Homo sapiens: one gene and its partners. The protein of the gene in region 2 purifies or fractionates together with the protein of the main gene of each other region. This does not show direct contact. Each region holds a gene or a part of one and is shown on either strand. Other genes may lie near its edges. The genes, in order: NENF, CPLX1, NDRG3, JPT1, HBS1L and GLO1.

Region 1 (3,960 bases), on a different chromosome or scaffold from region 2:
TGAAATTTCGGACCGGATGATGCTTTGTCAGGTGCATTACAGAATGTTGACCAGCATCCCTGGCCTCGAGATGCCAGTAGCATCCTGCAGTCATGACAGACAAAAATTAAAAAAAAAAAAATGTTGCCAGACATCACCCAATGTCCCCAGAGGGAAAAATCTGCCCACTCTAACAAAAGGGGCTTCCTCTTAAAATCTGACCTCAGTCCAGCATAAGGAATATGCCTCCCGTTCTTGGAATGACCTCCACCAGGCTCTGCCCACACTGACCCCGGCCCTCCTCACCAATCTCCAGCTGCACGTGCACTGAAGCCAGTTCCCACCCTCACTCCAGCCGGGTTTCCTGGCTCCCTTCCCATCGCCCACCCTCCCACCTCACCACTCTCTTTTCCTGCCCATTGCCTAAATGCCCCACCATCCGGCCCCGCAGGACTATGGAAGAACAACACAGCCCACCCGCTTATGTGGGCTCCAAGGAAATGGCCTCTGGGGAAGAATTCTCCTTTTGTAAAAATGGGACCTTTATTTTTGTTTTGATTATAAAGTGAACATGGTCATGGCTGAAAATCTGTCAAGCACAGAAAAGTATAAAGTAAAGGTCGCTCAAAATTCCACTGCCCAGCCAGCTGATACTGACATCTAGGAGGTGTCCCACTTTGGCTCTTATTGATCCCTGGTGTGCAGACAGGGGTCCCCAGGTAGACAGAACCCCTGACCAAGGACAACAGGAGGCATTTGCTCTTCCAGGGTAAGCATCTGTTTTATTCAGATCTGGGTGGCTCAGGGCCTCCAGGCAGCCAGTTTTGCAGGAGATTCAGCACCTAGTGTCTTCCTGCCTCACGCTCCCAAGAACCTGCTCCTGCAGGGGGAACATCAGAACTCATCCTTGATGTCAAAATGGGGCTGGTCTTCAGGCTTGAAGTCCAGGTTAGGGCTGCCATCCTCATTGAGAATTCTCCGGGCAGTGTAGCCGACGATGGGGTATTTGGCTTTGTACACTTTGGTGAAGACCTCATCCAGGGCCTCCAGTTCCTTGGCCGTGAGACCCGTCTTGGGGAGAAAAGCCCAAGAAAGACAGGAGATGGGGTTAAGTGGATAGTGTTTGGCACTGGCCTTTCTCCATCCCTGCCTTGCCTCCCACATCCCTAATGCAAGAGAAAAGATATCTCAACAAACCAAATAATGGACAAATGGCTTAAGAGACACTGCTGTGGGGGGGGCGTGGGGGTGGGAGGGTATAACATACGGGGAGCAATGCTTCATCACACTTTGTGGTTTGACTGATGGAAGGGATGAAAGACTCCAGAGAGCATGCTGGGGTGGGGCAGGGCATGCCCTATTGCATCTGCATCCCCTTCCTCCCCCCGATTAATCCTCCCTCTCTCTACACTGCTCCCATTATCCCTCTCTCTACACTCCTCCCATTATACATTTGGCACCTTCCCCTTTCTTAAGTTCTTCATTCATTTTTGTAATATTGTTACATTCATTTTGTTATGAGTTTGGCTCATCTCAATTTATCTCAATGTCAGTTTGATGTTGAGCACAGTTAGAGGAAATTCCAGCCTTACTGTTGGAATTATTTAGACCTTGAATAGGTTTAAAAAACAAATTTTTTTTTTTTTGAGATGGAGTCTCACTCTGTTGCCCAGGCTGGAGCACAGTGGCATGATCTCAACTCACTGTAACCTCCGCCCCCTGGATTCGAGCGATTCTCCTGCCTCAACCTCCCAAGTAGCTGGGATTACAGGTGTGCACCACCACACTCAGCTAATTTTTGTATTTTTAGTAGAGACGGGGTTTCTCCATGCTGGCCTGGCTAGTCTCAAACTCCTGACCTCAGGTGATCCACCTGCCTTTGCCTTCCAAAGTGCTGGGATTACAGGCATGATCCACCACTCCTGGCCTAAAAAATGTTTTAATGCTATCTTCTCCTTCACAGAAATATAAGCATAGAGGGAGACCTTTCTTCCCAACCCAGTTCATCCACAAAGCTACCAAGCATGGCCTGGGGAATGGGTCTCAGAGACTAATAGCAAGGCTGTAAGGGGCTGAGGGGATGGGGTGGCAGGTACAGACCATAAGGAGCATTAGGTTGCCAAAGCAGGTTGGGGCCAAATTGTGATGATCACTGAGTTGGATCACAAGTTCATAAGAGTTTGGACTTGACTCTAGGCAACAGACAGCCATGGAAGGTTTCTGAGTCGAGATGACATGGTAGGATAATCTATTTCAAGAAAATGCCTGGCCACCATACCAAGTGGACCGAAGGGTAAATAAGCTAATTAGGAAGGCTTGCTCTTGCCCAGATACACACACACACACACACACACACACACACACACACACACACACACACACGAAAAGAAAAAGAAAAAGAGAAAAAGGCATGGACAAGGAGGTAGAGGATTTTACAAAGGCTTATAATCTGGCTCACAGTGTCATGGGTGAGGTCTGCAGGATCCAAGGACATCTTGGCTACCCCTCTAGTGGAGTCCTTCCCCGTCAAGGCATTGTAGGGGGCTCCTCGTCCATAAAACTCTGTAGTGGGAAGGAAGGAAGAGACGTAAGCGTGGGTTTACATGCAGAGTAACCAGGAGCTTGCACGTGGGGGCGCTCCCAAGGCCCGCACCCAATCCTAAAAAAGACTCCACGCTCACGGAGAGGCCAAACAATGGCGATACAAAGTCCAGTAAGCCACCCCAGCCATCAGGTTGGATTCCACTTACTCTAAATGTGAAGTAAGTCACACATGCAGGCTGAGCAGGGATTTTCAGAAAATATAAAATGAGAATAGTACCCCTACAACCTCTTTTGTTGTTGTTTTTTTTTGACAGGGTCTCACTCTTGCCCAGGCTGGAGTGCAGTGGCACAATCTTGGCTCACTGCAATCTCCACCTCCCGGGTTCAAGCAATTCTCCCACCTCAGCCTCCAGAGTAGCTGGGACTACAGGCATGTGCCACCACCATGCCCAGCTAATTTTTGTATTTTTTTTTTTGAAGAGATGGGGTTTCACCATGTTGCCCAGGCTAGTCTTGAACTCCTGAGCTCACATGATCTGCCCACCTTGGCCTCCTAAAGCGCTGGGATTACAAGCATAAGCCACTGTGCCTAGCCCCCTTCTCGTTCTGTTTTTTCACCTAAGTGTTAATACTGAGAAAATAGTCTCTTAAAAATATTAGAGATGCAGGCTGGGTGCGGTGACTCACGCCTGTAATCCCAGCACTCTGAGAAGCCAAGATGGGCAGATCATTTGAGGTCAGGAGTTCAAGATCAGCCTGGTTAACATGGTGAAACCCCATCTCTACTAAAAATACAAAAATCTGGGCATGGTGGCGTGCACCTGTAATTCCAGTTACTCAGGAGGCTGAGGCAGGAGAATCGTTTGAACCTGGCAGCTGGAGAAGGTCGCATCACTGCACTCTAACCTGGGCGACAGAGCGAGACTGTCTCCAAAAAAAAAATTAAAGATGCAAACAAGAAAAATGTTCCCTCTTCTTAAATGTTGGTGGAAGCCAAATCTATTCCCATTCAGCAGTGTTTGTTATCAAATAATAGATAAACCAATACAAAACTATCTCCAAGATATCATTAGTAGTTACATTAAATGGCACTAAAATGTTCTGTAATGTTCTATAATGCCAACTCTTTACTAAAGAACACTTCTCTCATTGCTTCAACTAGGGTAAATCATTAAGTTTGAATTTAATTCTACAGGCAATGGAAAGTCATGAAAGGCTTTTGAGTAGAAGCATGTCATTATCAGGGGAAAAAAGCCCCTGCTGAAGTAAAACACTGACAAAGATTAACTCAATCTGCTCATTTAAAATGGAAGGAAGGCCAGGTGTGGTGGCTCACACCTGTAATACTAGCACTTTGGGAGGCCGAAGCGGGTGGATCACAAGGTCAGAAGTTCAAGACCAGCCTTGCCAAGATGGTGAAACCCCGTCTCTACTAAA
Region 2 (3,673 bases):
AGCAACCAGGCAGAGGGGCTGTTCTCTGGGTTGGGGTCAGGAACCTCTTCTGGCCTCAGCCCAGGTTGGCAGACATTTCCCTGCAGGGATCCGGGTCCAGGACTCAGGAGGAGGGACAGTCCCACGGGGGTGCTGGGGGGCAGGAATTCCTGGGTGGGCCGAGGTAAGGGCAGCACAGGGTGACCTGGGGCCCTGGGCCCGGTGGAGCTGAGGAGAGGGACAGGCCTGTGGTCGGGGGTCCTAGGTGGGAGGGAGAGCAGAGGGCAGATGCTTTGCGGGTGGAAGAACCACCCTGGGGGGCGGGAGACCCTGAAGGCGCAGGTTTGTGTTTAGATGGAGGTTGCGCTGGCTGGACGGCCTAGGGAAAATGGGTCTGACTGGATGGAGCTGAGTGAGAATGGTGGGAGGCCCTGCAGCCGCCGTGGAGAGAACATGCGCGGGGGAAAGCCCCGGTCCTCCGGCTGGCGAAATGGACCTCTGGAAGGAATGGCCACACGGTGTGAAATCACTGGTGTTTATTGGCTGTGATTCCATCCGGAGAGAACACACGCAGGGGCCCCGACATGCAGGAGGAGGCGCAGGCGCAGGACAGACGGACAGAGGACACCACGGTCTAAGCTAAGCTCGCGGCCCGGGGCGCCATGCGCTGGGAACGGGGTGCGCAGGTTCTACGAGAGGACGCCCTGTCTGCTCAGAGCTGGCTTTGTAAGGTGTGAAAACAGGAGTTTTTAAAAGACACGACCCGGGAGAAGTCAGTGAGAGGGCACAGGGCGAGCAGGACGGACAGCGACGTCCCCGCGGGCCGCGTCGCTGGGGCGCAGAGGGGCGCGGTGGTCTCTGCCCGGAGGGGCGTCGGTCGTTAGTATTGCAGTCTAACGTTATGGCTTCTCTAAAGCTATGTAAGGTCATGAAGGTCAATGCCAAGCCACGCCCTGGCCCGAAACACGTGGAGACTTGATGCATTTTTGATGTGGACGAAAGGGCCCGGGGGCGAGGCGGCGCCTGTCAAGATAAAACTCATTAAATGCAAAGACCTCATTTACCTGAGATTCAACAAATTGTGATGCAAATTAAACATGAATGGAGGAGAAACAGGGGCTCGGATGCCGCCCCGCAGGGCCACCAGGTGGATTAGGCCACACACGCGCCAGCTGCGCGCAGGGAACCCCGCAGGCCCCACCCGAGGAGCTGCCCACGGAGGAGGTGCTGGGCAGGGGCGCAGGGTCTCCAGCGTCCGGTGCCTCGGGCCTCTGCGGCTCCTGTGGAGGGTGCAGTGTTCAATGGCCGAGGGCAGGGGTCCTCCCCAGGGAGAAGCAGCAGCCGCGTGGGCGGAGAGGCTAGGAGGCCGGGCGGGGGGCGAGGACTTGGGAAGAGCGGGGTGACGGGGGTGGGGGCTGGGCGTCCCCCAAACCTATTGCTTTGTTTCCTTTAGTTTAGAAGTGAACACGGCCGTGGCGTTCGTAAGAAGCAAAACCTTCCAGAGAGGAGAGGAAAGGACGCGGACAGAGACGGATGGACAGGGGCGCGAGGGGGCCAGGCCGGGGGGCGGAGAGCGGCCGCGTGCGGACGCAAATACTCACGGCGGAGCGATCCGAACCCCGGAGTCCGCGTGCAGGAGGGGGACCCAGGCCCCGCCGCCCTCGCCCCGCCCGCAGCCCCCCGTCTGCTATGGCTGTGCTCCTGAGTGCGGGCCCGACAGGCGCCCACCGCCGCGAACGCGCGCACAGGGGTGGTCGCGGGGCTGCCCTTCGGCGGCCCTGGCCTCGGGCGCTGCTGGGTGGGCGGTAAACAGCAAGAGAAAGGGGCGTCCCAGGCGATGGGGCTCCAGCCACCCGCGGGCAGAGGAGCACGGGGCGGACTGGGGGGGTCCTGGGGGCGCGCGCCCCTTGCCGGGTGAGGGAGGCGGCGGGCGCGGGCAGGGCGGGCCTGGGGCTATGGCTTATATCGGCGTGGGGGCTGCGCTCTGCTCGTCCCTCAGGGGCCTCCGCGGAGGATCTGTAGGGGGAGGGGCGGGGGCTCCGCGGGGCCGCTGTCCCGCGCGCGGCTACTTCTTGAGCATGTCCTGCAGCGGCCCGGGCAGGTACTTGATGACGGTGTCCAGGATGCTCTCGTCCTCCTCCTCCACCTCGTCCCCGCAGCCCGGCGGGATGGCCTTCTTGGGCCGCGTCAAGCTCCCCTCGGAGTTGGCCTCCATGGCGGCCTGGGCCTCGGCCTCGCGCTCCTCCTTCTTCTTGATGCCGTACTGCGGGGGAGGCGGGGGTCAGGGCGGGGGTCCCGGCGGCTCCCGGGCGGGCCGCAGCCTCCCTGCGCCAGGGACTGGCCCAGGAACCCCCGAAGGCGTGGGTGCGGCCCCCTACCCCACCAGGCACACAAGGACCCCAGAAGGAGAAGAGACCCCACCCCGGGGGGTCCCTGGAGGAATGGGAAGCCCCCACGGAGAATGGGGGCCAGGAGCTGACATGGGGGGGAGCAGGGAGGGGGAGGCTCCCATCTTCCTTGAGAGGAGAGAGGGCTGTGGCCCCACCTCTGGCTCCAAACCCAGCCCAGCCCCTGGCATCCTGCCTTCCAGGAAGCCTCCGGCCCGGGGCAGGGAGGGGTGGGCAGGATGCTGCGTGGCAGAGGTGGGGAGAAACAGTCAACCCGCAGCTGACCCTCCTGCCCAGTGCCTGGTCCACGACCTGCATTCACACTCCCGGGCCTGGCCAAGGCTGCCTGGATGCGGCCGCGGCCCCAGCAGGGCCACTCCCTGGCAGGCCGCTGCAGCTCCGTGGGCAGCCGGCAGAGGGTCCTGGGCTGCGGTCACTTCCAGGCACTGGGTGTCCTGGAATCCCGCCTAGTCGTGCCCTCAGCCAGTATGCCTGGGCCTCACCGACCCCCTGCCCACCCGCGTTTCTCATCTCCCGTGAGTGCGTCTGCCCTCCGTAGTAGCTGAATATTGTCCCCCTCAAATTCATATTGCCTGGAGCTTCAAAGGTGATCTCATTCGGAAACAGGTCTTTGTTGATCTCATAATGGTAAGGATGGGGACGAGGCCATCCTGGATTTGAGGGGCCTCAAGTCCAGTGAGAGTGTCCTTGTAAGAGACAGAAAGGACAGACACCCGGATGGGGGCGGGCATACGAAAGCGGAGGAGGTCGCGAGTGGTCAAGAAACACCAGGGATTCGGGGCCGCCAGACGCAGGAAGGGGCAGGGAAGGGCCCTCCCCCAGAGCCTCCAGAGGGAGTGTGGGATTTTGTTCTTCTGCCCTCCAGGCCTCTAAGTTTTTGTCAGGCCCCGGGGTTTTGGTTTCTAGATCAATACGCCTCCCCACGCCACACTCCTCCAGCCCTCCCGTGAGCCACCAGCCCAGGAAGCCTGTGGTCATGGTCAGGCCACGGAACTACGGAACAGCCTCCTGCTGCCCAGGAAGGTGGGAACCAGTGGGGTTGGGCTGGCCTGGAAGGATTGGGGGCCTGGTGTTGTACGGAGCTGGACTTCCATCCCCTGAACAGGACCCCCGGGCCAGGTCCAAGGTCCTGGATCTGAGATTACAGGTGCTCTGGAGTAGTGAAGGCGTCAGCAGCTGCGTCCAGGAGAAAACTTAGGAGGGGAGTGGGCACCAGCACTCTACAGGACGGAGGAGCACACCGCGGGATCACCAGCCACAGGGAGGGGCCTTTCTGCCCAGGAGGA
Region 3 (3,500 bases), on a different chromosome or scaffold from region 2:
TGGGTGATGGAGTGAAACTCCATCTCAAAACAAATAAATAAATAAATAAATATATGTATATATATGTATATATACATATATATATACACACACATATATGTACACACACACACACACACACACATATAAAAATATATATAACTGAAACCTGGGAGTTATCCTTGGTAGCTGTCAGTATCCAACCCATCAGCAAGTCAGTGGAGTCTATCTCCAGAATATATCCATCTACCTACTACTATCTACTTCAATCATCCCCCAACAGCAGCATCCAGTACCATGCTATCATTATCTCTTGCCTGGACTATTGTTAATAGTTTAACTGTTCTCCCTGCTTTCTCTCTCTGATTCTTCTCCAAACCATTCTCTTCTCAGTGAGATGAACGTTTTTAAAAAAATTTAAACAGCTTTATTTTTATTTTTTAGATACAGGGTGTCTCACTGTTACTCAGGCTGGAGTGCAGGGGTGGGATCACAACTCACTGTAGCCTTGAACTGCTGTTGTTAAGTGATCTTCCTGCCACTTGGCCCAGCTCAAGGTAGATTTTTAAATCTTCTAGGTCTCAGCGTGTGTGCCACCTTCCTAGAGAGGAATTCCCTAACTTGCCTTACTAATGTAGATCCCACCCTTATTCTCTATCACAACACCCCCACTGACTTATTTTATAGAACTTTATTATTTGTTTGCTTACTTGTTACCCCACTAAGCTCTAGGAGGACAGTGATAATATTTTTCCTAACCATCATATCCTCTGAAACAGACACTAAATAATTCACCATAGAAAGTCAATAAAAACTGCATGAAAGACTGCAGAATGAACCTACCTTAGGTGGGTAAGAACAGGAGGCAGCATTTCAGCCAGCTCATCCATTGTGGGGTACTGATACCTGCAATCCAGAAGGATATCTCCTGAATTAGAAAGCACTCACAATTCCCAGTTGCTAGAACAGCTGGAAAGGTCCAGAAGTCTTAGATAAAAGGCTGAGCGCAGTAGCTCATGCCTATAATCCCAGCACTTTGGGACACCGAGGTGGGCAGATCACCTGAGGTTGGGAGTTCGAGACCAGCCTGACCAACATGGAGAAACCTCATCTCTACTAAAAATACAAAATTAGCTGGGTGTGGTAGCACATGCCTGTAATCCCAGAAACTTGGGAGGCTGAGGCAGGAGAATTGCTTGAACCTGAGAGGCGGAGGCTGCCGTGAGCGGAGATCATGCCATTGCACTCCAGCCTGGGCAACAAGAGCAAAACTCCGCCTCAAAAAAAAAAAAAAATCTTAGATAAAAGCATTTCCTTTTACCAAAGGCTCAAAGGAGGTGATGTGGTACCCTGAAAATGATTGTGGCATATTGTGTAACTCTCTACAACTGCCATGCTAAGGAGAAAGTAAAATAATCCACGGTTTCTATATCCTAACAAGCAGCCCTTGGGACCAGAGGGTGCCACATGAAAAGAACTAGTAACATGGTTCTCTCTTAGGGTATTTCCAAACCTCTAACAATCTCTTCAGTTGGAGTCCAGGCTCAGTAAACCTCCGGCAGTAAGAGTCAACTCAGAAAGGGGGTCTTGGTCTACTGCTATATTTAGGCAACTAAATGCAAAAATAAAGCTTTTCTAGGTATGGGCACACAGTTACAAACCCTTAGCATGAATGCTTATTTGTTTCACTTAGGCATAGAATAACATAGTTATTTTTAAAATTTTATTATTATTATTATTATTATTATTAATTTTTTAAGAGACATGGTCTCACTCTGTCACCCAGGCTGGAGTGCAGTAGTGAAATCATAGCTCACTGTAACCTTGAACTCCTGGGCTCAAGCTATCCTCCTGCCTCAGGCTTCTGAGTAGCTGGGACTACAGGCGCATGCCACCATGCCTGGCTAATTTTTCAATTTTTTGTAGAGATGGAGTCTCGCTATGTTGCCAGGGCTGGTCTTGAATTCCTGGCCTCAGGTGATCCTCCTACCTCAGCCTAACAAAGTGCTAGAACTACAGGTGTGAGCCACTGTGTCTGGCATGGTTATTTTATTGTATTTGAATTTGGTTCATAATATGAACCATCTGATCCTAAGATGTTCGAGCAGGCCCAGGAACAGACCCAGATCAGAATTCCTAGAAAAGTAGTAAGCATCCGACTGGGAGCGTTGGCTCACGCCTGTAATCCCAACACTTTCAGAGGCTGAGGCAACCAGATTGCTCAAGCCCAGGAGTTCGAGACCAGCCTGAGCAACAGGGCAAAACCCTGTCTCTACAGAAAATAACAATAATTAGCCAGGCGTGTTGGCACACACTTGTAGTCCCAGCTAGTAGGGAGGCTGAGATGGGAGGATCACTTGAGCCCAGGAGGTTGAGGCTGCAGTAAGCCATGATCACGCCACTGTACTCCAGCCTGGGAAACAAAGCACTATCCTATCTCAAGAAAGAAAGAAAAAGTATTACAGAATTGGAGATGGAATTGATCCTAAGATGACCACTTATATATGAGGCAGGATCTGTTCTACATCTGACAGGGAAGTCAGCCTGCCTCTGCCTGAACACTTAAGGGGATGGTGTGCTGTGGAACCATTTGTCCACAAAATAGAAAAAAGGAACTGGATACAAATCTTGTTGGATATAAACTGACCACTGGCCAATTTGCATTTTAGAGTCAGATTCTGGCACCAGACTGTCTGGGTTCAAATCTTAGCTCTGCCACTTATTTGTTATGTAATGTTAGCCATGTTACTTAATTTTTCTGGGCCTCAGTTTCCTCACTTATAAAATGGGAATAATAGTAAACTTATCCCATAGGGTTGTGAGGAGTAAATGAGTTAACAAATGTAAAGCATTTAAAGCAGGGTCTGGAACACGGTTTGAGTACTATTTAAATATTAGCTATTATTTGTCTGCAATTGTCTATTTCCCAGCAGTCACTGGCCAAAGGCAGCTCTGGAGATGAGTGAAAGGATAGGGGAAGAATTAGCATTCCACAGAGTGTGTGCTCACTCCTCCTAAGGTCTTCTCAATAAGCACCCGTCCAGGGAACAAACAGGTAGGGAGCCTATGACTCTGCCCTGCGAAGCAGATGTAGGAGGAAGCTGAGAGTGCCAAAGCCAATCAATCACCCCACACCTCTATCTGCCAGGACAGCCTCTCAGAATAAACAGTTACACAGATAGTCAAATTTCCATTACTAGTTTGAGAGCTAAGGATGGGGAGATGCTCCCAGGAAAGCTCAGAGAGATCTGAATTTGGGCCTAAGTAGTTGGGAGTTTTGAGGAAGGACACAAAAATGACAGGTTTTTTTGTTTGTTTGTTTTCTTTCTGGGGACAGGGTCTTGCTCAGTCATCCAGGCACTGCAGCCTCAATCCCCTGGGCTCAAGTGATCCTCCCACAACAGCCTCCCAAGCAGACACGACCACAGGTGAACACCACCATGCCTGGCTGGCTAATTTTTCAATTTTTTGTAGAGACAAGGTATTCCTATGTTATCCAGGCTGGTCTTGAACCCCGGGGC
Region 4 (2,765 bases), on a different chromosome or scaffold from region 2:
TGGAGTACAGTGGTGCGATCATGGCTCACTGCAGCCTTGATCTCACAGGGTGAAGCAATCCTCCTGCCTCAGCCTCCCGACTACAGGCGTGTGCCATCACACCTGGCTATTTTTGGTAGAGACGAGGTTTCACCATGTTGCCCAGTCTTGGAGAACACTTTAAAATGTTACTGCCCAGAACAAAGGGGAGGTAGAAGAGTCTAACCTGCTCATCTTTAGAGCCTTCTTCAGAAAGAAACCCACTCCTCTCTGGGTCTTCATCTGTTTTAAGATTTTGTTTTTTAAGGAGGTCTCGCTATGTTGCCCAGGATAGTCTCAAACTCCTGGGCTCAAGCATCCTCTTGCCTTGGCTTCCCAAGTAGCTAATTACAGGCACATCTGGCTATTTAACTTCAAATGACTCCTCCAATCAGTAGGCAGGATTTATAGTGACAAAGAGAAAAGCATCTAACCAGGGAGAACACTGAAACCATCTCAAAAAGAAGACACAGTACACAGTGTTTCAAAATGTGGATATTGTTTACTTGAAGCAACAGTCCAGGATTGTGAAGTACAACACATTTTAAGGATGAGACTTTCCTTTCATGGTCAAGCACCAGCATCATGCACACAGCATCAGGTTATTTAAAACAACACGCCTGTGGGACCCCGTTCCTGGAGGAAGACCCGCTTCAGTGTGATTGCCTCCCTTGCTTCACTGCTTTTAGTTCCAGGCAGTTTCATTGTACATCCAAGCCTTCCTCTGCGTGAGAGCAAAGGCTTTGCTCATCAGCCAGCCAGTCTTGTTACTATCTGGCTACTTTTTAAGGTTAAAAAATAAAAGGCAGTTTCTTTGCTTTGCAGGCGGCAAGGCAGGAGGCGCAGGCCTCTTCATTGTTCACATGTCACAGGAGGAGGCTCTGAGCAAAGGCCACTGGCAAGTTAGGGCAACACCAAGAAGGCTCTGCGGAGAGACTCCCTGTGGGTTGGGGCCTGGCAGGAACGGTGCCTGTGGACTGTTTATGGTCTGTCCAGTTGAGGCTTGGTAAACCCAAGTAAAGTGTTAAAAACCTCAGTACAAAAGATCCTCTAACACATCTGGAACCAAATTATTTCTTCTTAAAAACACAGTACTAAGTGTCACAAAGCTTTCCCTCCAATCTACTACTAGAAAACACTCATGCCATGGCCCACAGACCCAAGAGTCAAGGACAGAGAGAAACCTGTTCTTCAAAAGAAAAAAAAAAAAGACAGCAGTACATAAAGTGCTTCTTTTTAATGAAACAAATCCAAGAGATGTACAGTCAGGCTCAAGTTGTGCAGTTCACAAGCATGGAGGAAACAGACAGAACGACAGCGTTCAGGACAGTCAGAGCTAACCCAAGACGAGGCTGGACTTGCCGCCAGGGGGATTTCTTCTGGATGGCACTGGGGCCGGGGCCACCGGGCTGGGCACAGGCGCAGCAGGCACGGGCTTCTCTTCACTCTGCCCCAGGCTGCCTGGCAAGTCTGTGTCCACATTTTCTATGAAAACAGGGAATAGAAATAATACTCATAATGACAGCCATTTCCTGTTAAGATCAAGGATCTGTTTCTCTTTTTCTTTTTTTTTTGGTTTGATGGTTGGAAACATACCTAAAAGCATAAACAAAATAATCACCCACCATGCTCCCACTCCACAGAATTAACCATTGTTCATCTTTTCCCATATTTGTTGTTTATGTTCTTTTCTAAATTACACAAATATATAAGGACATGAAGTTTTTTTTTGTTTTGTTTTGTTTTTTGACGGAGTCTCGCTGTTGCCCAGGCTGGAGTGCAATGGTGCAGTCTTGGCTCACTGCAACCTCCACTTCCCAGGTTCAAGCAATTCTCCTGCCTCAGCCTCTCTAGTAGCTGGGATTACAGGCGCCTGCCGCCATGCCCGGCTAATTCTTGTATTTTTAGTACAGATGGGGTTTCACCATCCTGGCCAAGCTGGTCTTGAATTCATGACCTTGTGATCCACCTGCCTCGGCCTCCCAAAGTGCTGGGATTACAGGCGTGAGCCACCGCGCCTGGCCCAAGGACATGAAGATTTTTAAATAAGAACAGGGAACTCTAGCTCTACGGCCCCTTCCAGCTCCGGGTGGATCCTGCTCCCCCTATTCCCAGAGGTCCCACTGCAAGTCCTGTGCAGCCTTCTAGTCCACTTGTTTTATGTATATTTACATGTAGCCAGATAACATGTAACATGTTTTGGTTATATTTAACATAAATGGTATCAACTTCTTTTTTTCACTCTTGGAAATGTATCCATATTTACAAACAGGGTAGTAATTCGCCTTGCTTATTAACTGTATGTTTTCAAATCCCTCACCTCACTGTCAAGCTTCATTGCTTTATAGTAATTATCACATGATATAGGCTATTTATCCAATTCTCTGACAGCAAAAAAACTGGAACCCATCCAATTTTCCAAATGAATTGTCTCTCATTAGGGTTGTTTCTAAACCGGGAAAAAACTGATTCAAAGTGCAAAGTGAATGCAAAAATTCTATATTTTCTATGAAAGGAAACTTTTACTAAGAGCTTAATAGTATACATATTTTTAGTTTTTTTGTTTGTTTGTTTTTTGTGGAGGGGTGGGGTGGCAGGTGGAGGATATTGAGACAGGGTCTCACTCTGTGGCCCAGGCTGGAGTGCAGTACCTCAATCACAGCCCACTGTAGCCTCAAACTCCTGGGCTCAAGCAATCCTCCTATATCAGTCTCCCAAATAGCTGGGACTACAGGCGCGCACCACCA
Region 5 (3,500 bases), on a different chromosome or scaffold from region 2:
ACTAAGTGAGGCATGAAATCAGATGTTTCCCTCAACAAGTTTCAGTCAGGAAATACTGACAGGGAAGAGGAAGTTTTCAATGCACAGGCTTCTCCTCTGCCTGCCAGGAGCTATTTTTTCTGTGGTGGGGTCGAGGGTGGTCCTATACGACCACACACACCCAACACATAACTCCAACTCAAAAACCCATACTGTGGCCACTATTTTGGAAGTAGTAATGGTTGGATTTGCAAAGGGTGGGTGGGGGGAAGAGTAAGAAAACTCCCCCAGGAGAAGTATTGGGTCGCTGCAAAAGTAACCGCAGGTCTTTCCATTACTTTCAAAGGGTGGGTGGGTGAGGTGGGGAGCGGTCCAAACCTCTGAAGTTGTACTGAGAGCCCCAAAAGCAACAAATACAACAAATAAAGGAGTGAGAGAAAGTAATGATGAGAAAATGGTAAATACAAAATGCTATTCTCTAAAATTTTAAATCACAAACTTTGATGGAAGTGCCTTCTGAAAAAACAGACACCTATAATTTTTAAAATTTAAGGCATTTTGACAAACATAAAAGTGCAAAGAATTCAAAACCTAACACCTGAAACTTCCTACAATGGTTTCCTAAACATCTTAAAATAAAAATCACATGAGGCATTCATTAAAAATACAGATTTCTAGGCTTCTTCCCCGGGAGATTATGACTCAGTGGTGCTGGAATGAAGCAGGAAATTTGTATTCTTAAGAATTATTCTGGCCAGGCACAGTGGCTCATGCCTGTAATCCCAGCACTTTGGGAGGTCCAGGCAGGTGGATCACCTGAGGTCAGGAGTTCAAGACCAGCCTGGCCAACATGGCAAAACCCCATCTCTACTAAAAATACAAAATTAGCTAGGCGTGGTGGCGGGCGCCTGCAATCCCAGCTACTTGAGAGGCTGAGGCGTGAGAACTGCTTGAACCTGGGAGCCAAGTGGAGGTTGAGGTGAGCCGAGATCGTGCCACTGCACTCCAGCCTAGGCTACAGAATGAGACTCCGTCTCAAAAAAAAAAAAATGATTCCCAGCAGATTCATATCACAAGGTAAGATTAAGAAACACTGGTGAACTACAAGTCTCCCCTTTATTCTGGCCCACCTATACGCCACTTTGTGGACCATGATCAGTTATCTGCACAAAATACTAGCTCCCTTACTCAAAAAACTCCAATAAGTTGACACTAAAAACACAAAATTAGAAACTGTCTTTCACAATTTCATTCCTATTTTCTTTCCTAGCCCTCTTTCCTCCTGCCACTTGCATTAATCCTGGTAGTCTGATGAAACAAGCCTCACTCAGAGGCCATTGCTTAAGCAACGTTGTTTCCTCTAGCTGGGATGCCATTCTTACTCCCAAATTTCCTAGCTTCAATCCCACCTCCTTCTAGAAGCCTTCCCAGACTCCTTCAGTCAGGGTTATTTTCTTTACCCACAGTACTGTTGTAGCAAGTTATTTGAACAAGACTTTAAACAAGCTTCCTTATACCAAACTAATTTATAAATGTATTAGAATAGTGTTTTTCTTACAAAAAAAAAAAAGAATATACAATAAAGGTGTGAAATTAGAATGGAGCAAACAAAGATTACTTCTAATCATATTAGCTGAAACAAAATACATCACCATTCAAATAAAGTTTTATATGCAAACTCCTTTTGCTACCCCCTACTCTTTGACATAGGTTCAATACTCAGTATCAATCTTTCTAAAAGAAAGAAAAGTTAACGTTTAAAAATCACCATCCTAGGCTGGGCATGGTGGCTCACACCTATAATCCTGGCACTTTGGAAGGCCGACACAGGAGGATCACTGGAGCTCAGGAATTTGAGACAAGCCTGGGCAGCATAGTGAGACCAGGAAAATTGAGCTTAATAGAATTCAAAAAAATATACACGTGCTGATGAATTTTAGAAAGAAATTCCAATTAATTGATAAAGTCTTTCAATTATCAGACTTCATTACACCATGAATACAATCAGCTTTTCAATGACATTAGCTGCTTAAGAATAGAAAATATTCTTCTAAAACCATTCATTTTTTATTGAAAATTACTTGGAAAATATACCACTATAGAGGAAAGTAAGTTTCTTATCTGATGTTACTGCTATTTTAAAATGTTTTGAAAAATTTAAAAATCCAAAGTCGTATGCTTTTGTTAAAAATCAGTTTGTCACAGAAGAAACCAAAAACATTTAACTATCTCCTGCTTTGATAAGATCAGTTGGCTTCTTGGTGTGTTTGAAAAGTAACTCTCAGAGTCAGACTGTCCTGAATACAAACCACAGGTAAGAGCCACATCAAAAGCTATGAGAGACACATGGATAAACTCCGTCTCTGTCCTCAAGGAAGCTAGGCCATAAATGCAAGTCTCAGAGAAACACCCTTTGAAGGTCTGACTTTGTACTATTACCTTATTATTCAAGATAACATAACATTTATCCAGAGAAGCCTAGATAAATGACTGGGTTAACCTGCAATATTAAGGTGTCTTTCAGTAATCCCCCCTCTGAAAGATTCCACGCTTATACAAAGCCATATTCAACCAACTTCCAAGTCCTGCAGACCTCAACTCCTGTAAATTTTCTCTTGAATGTATTTCCAAATCCAATGCTACCAACTCTTGCCCTAAACAAATGGTTCTCAATGCATACCACGAGCATACCCCAGTGGGCTTGTTAAAACATCTGCTATGCCTCACTCCTAGTTTCTGACTCTTGGGTGGAGTCCCCAACATTGCATTTCTAACAAACTCTCAAGCGATGCTGATGGTTCACTTTGAGAACACTGTCCTAAAATAGCCTCATCTCCTCTAGATAAATACATATAACAGTCTCCTAACGAGTCTACTTACATCCACCCATATACCACCTTTAATCCATTAACTATGTATTAGAGATTTTTTTAACTCAAATCTAATATAACCATATCATCTTCTCAGTTCTATATGCCATGCTCTCTAATGTGCTTAGAATGTGAGTGATGAGGATAGCACTACCAGACATCACTTTGTCACCTCTAATATTTAAGTTACCTAGTCAACTGTGATGCTGAATTATAGGAGCCCCAAAGGGCAAATGCCTAGGAGGTTCCTAGAAAAATGTGAAATTGTTTTATTCCTAAGTCACTACAAAATGTCTTCTCTTTTGAACCCCTGAATAAGGAGCTATAAAGGAATGCTGCTTATTAAGCCACCTCTCAGCTTCTAACCTACCATCCTTTACTCAGCTTTGTGATGCTGGATTGAAGTCACTGCAAAGCACATTTCTTCTTTGATACCCGGCTCCCTTTTAGGATCATCCAATAAGGAGATATGAAAGGGACACCGGAAAGCCAGAGAAGGCAGGCACATGCTCCTTTCCTTTTGCTTCTTGTTCCAGTATCACCCCAGCAATACTCACTTCACCTTCCAGAAGCAGTTTCTTCCAGTAACTGCAATTAATATCCGTTTTCAGTTTTTCCAAAACTCCCAGAACCAGCTTCAATTTGCCTCTT
Region 6 (3,500 bases), on a different chromosome or scaffold from region 2:
TAATACCTGCCTCAGGGATTAGGATTTCAACACATGAATTTTGAGGGGACACAAACATTCAGACCATAGCACCTTTATTACCCTCAGTCTGCAGAAAGGAGAAGTTCCACACTTGCATTAGCCATATTTTCAGAAATTAAAAAATTTCTCTGGTTTAAAAAATGTTGTCTTTCGACCTTAATAAGACTGAGACCAATTCCCTTTAGAGACTATCTACTTTGTCTCTCAAATAACTTTCAAAAGTGTTATATTGCCCCCAACAGAAAGCCTTCTTCTTTTTTTTTTTTTTTTGAGATGGAGTCTCACTCTGTTGCCCAGGCTGGAGTGCAATGGCACGATCTCGGCTCACTGCAACCTCTGCCTCCCAGGCTATTCTCCTGCCTCAGCCCCCTGAGTAGCTGGGATTACAGGCACGCGCCACCATGTCTGGCTAATTTTTTTGTATTTTTAGTAGACACAGGGTTTCACCATGTTGGTTAGGCTGGTCTCGAACTCCTGACCTCATGATCCACCCACCTTGGTCTCCCAAAGTGCTGGGATTACAGACGTGAGCCACCGGGCCTGGCCCAGAAAGTCTTCTTAAGGCTCAACTAAACATCCAGACTTATAAGACAACCATAGCCATAGGCCATACATGGTGCCAGTTTACTCAAAACGGTATCTGTTAGGAAAACACAGATTGCCAACAAAGAAGTATCAGGTGTTCCTCTTCAGTGGGAGTCCTTACAGGAGTCGACACAGATCAGGTACAGGGAGAAGATTCACACTGGATATGAATGAGAATCACCCTAGGGCAGAAGGCCCCATGTACCACAGGAGCCAGTATCTCTAGTAGCAACTCCATAGGCAGAACTTCTAGAATTTCCACAAGGGACAGTTATAAGAGTCACTACAATCAGGGAAGTCCAAAGCTATGGCTTCCTTTCAAGTATTTACAATTCTCCCTCTCCAGATGCAATTTACCAATTGGGTTATTTTTACCATAAGCAACAAACACAATTTTTCATTGTTTTCTGGGAAACTAGGGAGTTAACGAAAAGTCAAATTTTCATAAAAGGGGAAAGGGTTTGTTAACTCTTTATTACTAGGTGTCACATCTCCCACAAAACAAAAGTGAACAAAGTGGTTTTCACCAGACTTTTAAAAATGAGCTTTTCAACTGCCTTCAGTGTATCTTGAGGAAAGCAAGAAGTCCTCACTACTTCCTGCCTAGACAATTATCTCTTTGCTTTTCATAGGCTTATCTACATGCAATTTGGAGTGATCTTTCCATAAAGAAAACCCTGTCATGTCATTTTTGGCTTAAAAATCAATACTTCAGTGGTTCCTCAACACATTTGAGAGACAGTCCCAAAAGCAACCACATATGTAGCTGCATACTTCTCTAACACCAACGGTTATCACCACTCCCCTAAACCGGTCATCTCAAACATTTTCTATTTCATACCCTTATCACTTAAATAGCAACCATTACAGGGTGAGAAAAACAAATGAATATAATGGGAATTCTCATCTTTTCTTTGAGTACCCTAATGATTGTTTTGGTCACCCTTCCCTCAAGTCCCACTGCTTATAACTTCATTCACTGTGTTACCCGTAGGTCCCTGCCTCAGTTCTCTGATGTCATTATGCCTTTATATATATTATGATTCTCTATGCCTTGAATAGTCAGCCATTTATCTGGCCATTGTCCTTCTTCCTTCCTCCTTTCCATTCCCTATTCTCCTTTCTACTGCATTCAATTCCACCAATCTACCTGATTGGAGAGGGACCCCATCATATATATATATATTCATATATTTATAGATATATTTATATATTAATATATATTAATTTTTTATATTTTTATATATTCATATATTTATATATGGAACGATGTGAAAATGGACATTGGCAGTGGTGGTAGAAATAATGGCAACACTGAGGACATTGTCTACTGTATTAGTGGAGACAGATACAGATAGTAAAAAAGAAAAGATCTCCAGATCACTACTTGGAAGGAGAACCTGACCTTTTTTTTTTTTTTTTTTTTGAGACGGAGTCTCTCTCTGTTGCCAGGAGAATCTGACCTTTTAAAGAAAGTTAGCCCAGAGAGATTGCCCAAAATGTGACATAGCCATACATTCTCTGGACTTCCTTTATAATGAAGATGCAAATGATCAAAAAACAAGTCGACTTTGTGCCATTGCTGCTGTCTTCTTTACAAACGAGACCCTCATATCACTTATCTCACCTTCTGGAAGAGCTTTTTAAGTGGCCTAATCACCTCCAGACTTGGATCCCTCCAATCTACTTTATAGAATACTTCAAAACCCTGACTCATTCCCCACTATGTATATAAAATCTAACTTCCTTAGATGTGACACTCAAAGCTGTCTCCACAATCTGGCCCCAACCTACCATGTTAGCCTCTTCCACCACTGCTTAGATAACCTGAACTGCAACCAATAACATTTAACTAACTCTCCAGTACCTGCCCTGCATTGCAATTCTACCATCCTAAAACTGTTGTGGGAAGTCAGGGACCCCGAATGGAGGGACCAGCTGGAGCTGTGGCAGAGGAACATAAATTGTGAAGATTTCATTTTAATATGGACATTTATCAGTTCCCAAATAATACTTTTATAATTTCTTATGCCTGTCTTTAATCTCTTAATCCTGTTATCTTCGTAAGCTGAGGATGTACATCACCTCAGGACCACTGAGATAATTGTGTTAACTGTACAAATTGATTGTAAAACTGTGTTTGAACAATATGAAATCGGCGCACCTTGAAAAACAACAGAAAAACAGCGATTTTAGGGAACAAGGGAAGACAACCATAAGGTCTGACTGCCTGAGGGGTCGGACAAAAAGAGCCATATTTTTCTTCTTGCAGAGAGCCTATAAACGGACGTGCAAGTAGGAGAGATATTGCTAAATTATTTTCCTAGCAAGGAATATTAATATTAATACCCTGGGAAAGGAACGCATTCCTGGGGGGAGGTCTATAAACGCCCGCTCTGGGAATGTCTGTCTTATGAGGTTGAGATAAGGACTGAGATACGCCCTCGTCTCCTGCAGTACCCTCAGGCTTACTAGGGTGGGGAAAAAACTTCACCCTAGTAAATTTGTGGTCAGACCGCTTCTCTGCTCTCGAACCCTGTTTTCTGTTGTTTAAGATGTTTATCAAGACAATACGTGCACTGCTGAACATAGACCCTTATCAGTAGTTCTGCTTTTGCCCTTTGCCTTGTGATCTTTGTTGGACCCTTATCAGTAGTTCTGCTTTTGCCCTTTGCCTTGTGATCTTTGTTAGACCCTTATTAGTAGTTCTGCTTTTTGCCCTTTGAAGCATGTGATCTTTGTACCTACTCCCTGTTCTTACACCCCCTCCCCTTTTGAAACCCTTAATAAAAACTTGCTGGTCTAAGACTCAGGTGGGCATCACAGTCCTACTGATATGTGATGTCACCCCCCGGCAGCCCAGCTGTAAAATTCCTCTCTTTGTACTCTTTATT

The links.
Region 1: the proteins of CPLX1 (region 2) and NENF fractionate together in Homo sapiens (co-fractionation; one large-scale study listed by BioGRID). This does not show direct contact.
Region 3: the proteins of CPLX1 (region 2) and NDRG3 fractionate together in Homo sapiens (co-fractionation; one large-scale study listed by BioGRID). This does not show direct contact.
Region 4: the proteins of CPLX1 (region 2) and JPT1 fractionate together in Homo sapiens (co-fractionation; one large-scale study listed by BioGRID). This does not show direct contact.
Region 5: the proteins of CPLX1 (region 2) and HBS1L fractionate together in Homo sapiens (co-fractionation; one large-scale study listed by BioGRID). This does not show direct contact.
Region 6: the proteins of CPLX1 (region 2) and GLO1 fractionate together in Homo sapiens (co-fractionation; one large-scale study listed by BioGRID). This does not show direct contact.

Annotation. Positions count from the first base shown.
Region 1 is NC_000001.11:212,442,920-212,446,879, reverse strand, and holds the end of NENF (neudesin precursor), read right to left. Parts: intron 2,542-3,960; coding exon 2,438-2,541; intron 1,051-2,437; coding exon 874-1,050; 3' UTR 501-873; downstream 1-500. UniProt on the Homo sapiens protein: Acts as a neurotrophic factor in postnatal mature neurons enhancing neuronal survival. Promotes cell proliferation and neurogenesis in undifferentiated neural progenitor cells at the embryonic stage and inhibits differentiation of astrocytes.
Region 2 is NC_000004.12:784,457-788,129, forward strand, and holds the end of CPLX1 (complexin-1), read right to left. Parts: exon of another isoform or gene 3,493-3,673; intron 3,411-3,492; exon of another isoform or gene 3,318-3,410; intron 2,243-3,317; coding exon 2,045-2,242; 3' UTR 501-2,044; downstream 1-500. UniProt on the Homo sapiens protein: Positively regulates a late step in exocytosis of various cytoplasmic vesicles, such as synaptic vesicles and other secretory vesicles.
Region 3 is NC_000020.11:36,683,591-36,687,090, forward strand, and holds part of NDRG3 (protein NDRG3), read right to left. Parts: intron 886-3,500; coding exon 823-885; intron 1-822.
Region 4 is NC_000017.11:75,134,748-75,137,512, forward strand, and holds the end of JPT1 (jupiter microtubule associated homolog 1), read right to left. Parts: exon of another isoform or gene 1,504-2,765; coding exon 1,355-1,503; coding exon of another isoform or gene 1,255-1,354; 3' UTR 501-1,254; downstream 1-500. UniProt on the Homo sapiens protein: Modulates negatively AKT-mediated GSK3B signaling.
Region 5 is NC_000006.12:135,044,823-135,048,322, forward strand, and holds part of HBS1L (HBS1-like protein), read right to left. Parts: intron 1-3,500. UniProt on the Homo sapiens protein: GTPase component of the Pelota-HBS1L complex, a complex that recognizes stalled ribosomes and triggers the No-Go Decay (NGD) pathway.
Region 6 is NC_000006.12:38,696,646-38,700,145, forward strand, and holds part of GLO1 (lactoylglutathione lyase), read right to left. Parts: intron 1-3,500. UniProt on the Homo sapiens protein: Catalyzes the conversion of hemimercaptal, formed from methylglyoxal and glutathione, to S-lactoylglutathione. Involved in the regulation of TNF-induced transcriptional activity of NF-kappa-B. Required for normal osteoclastogenesis.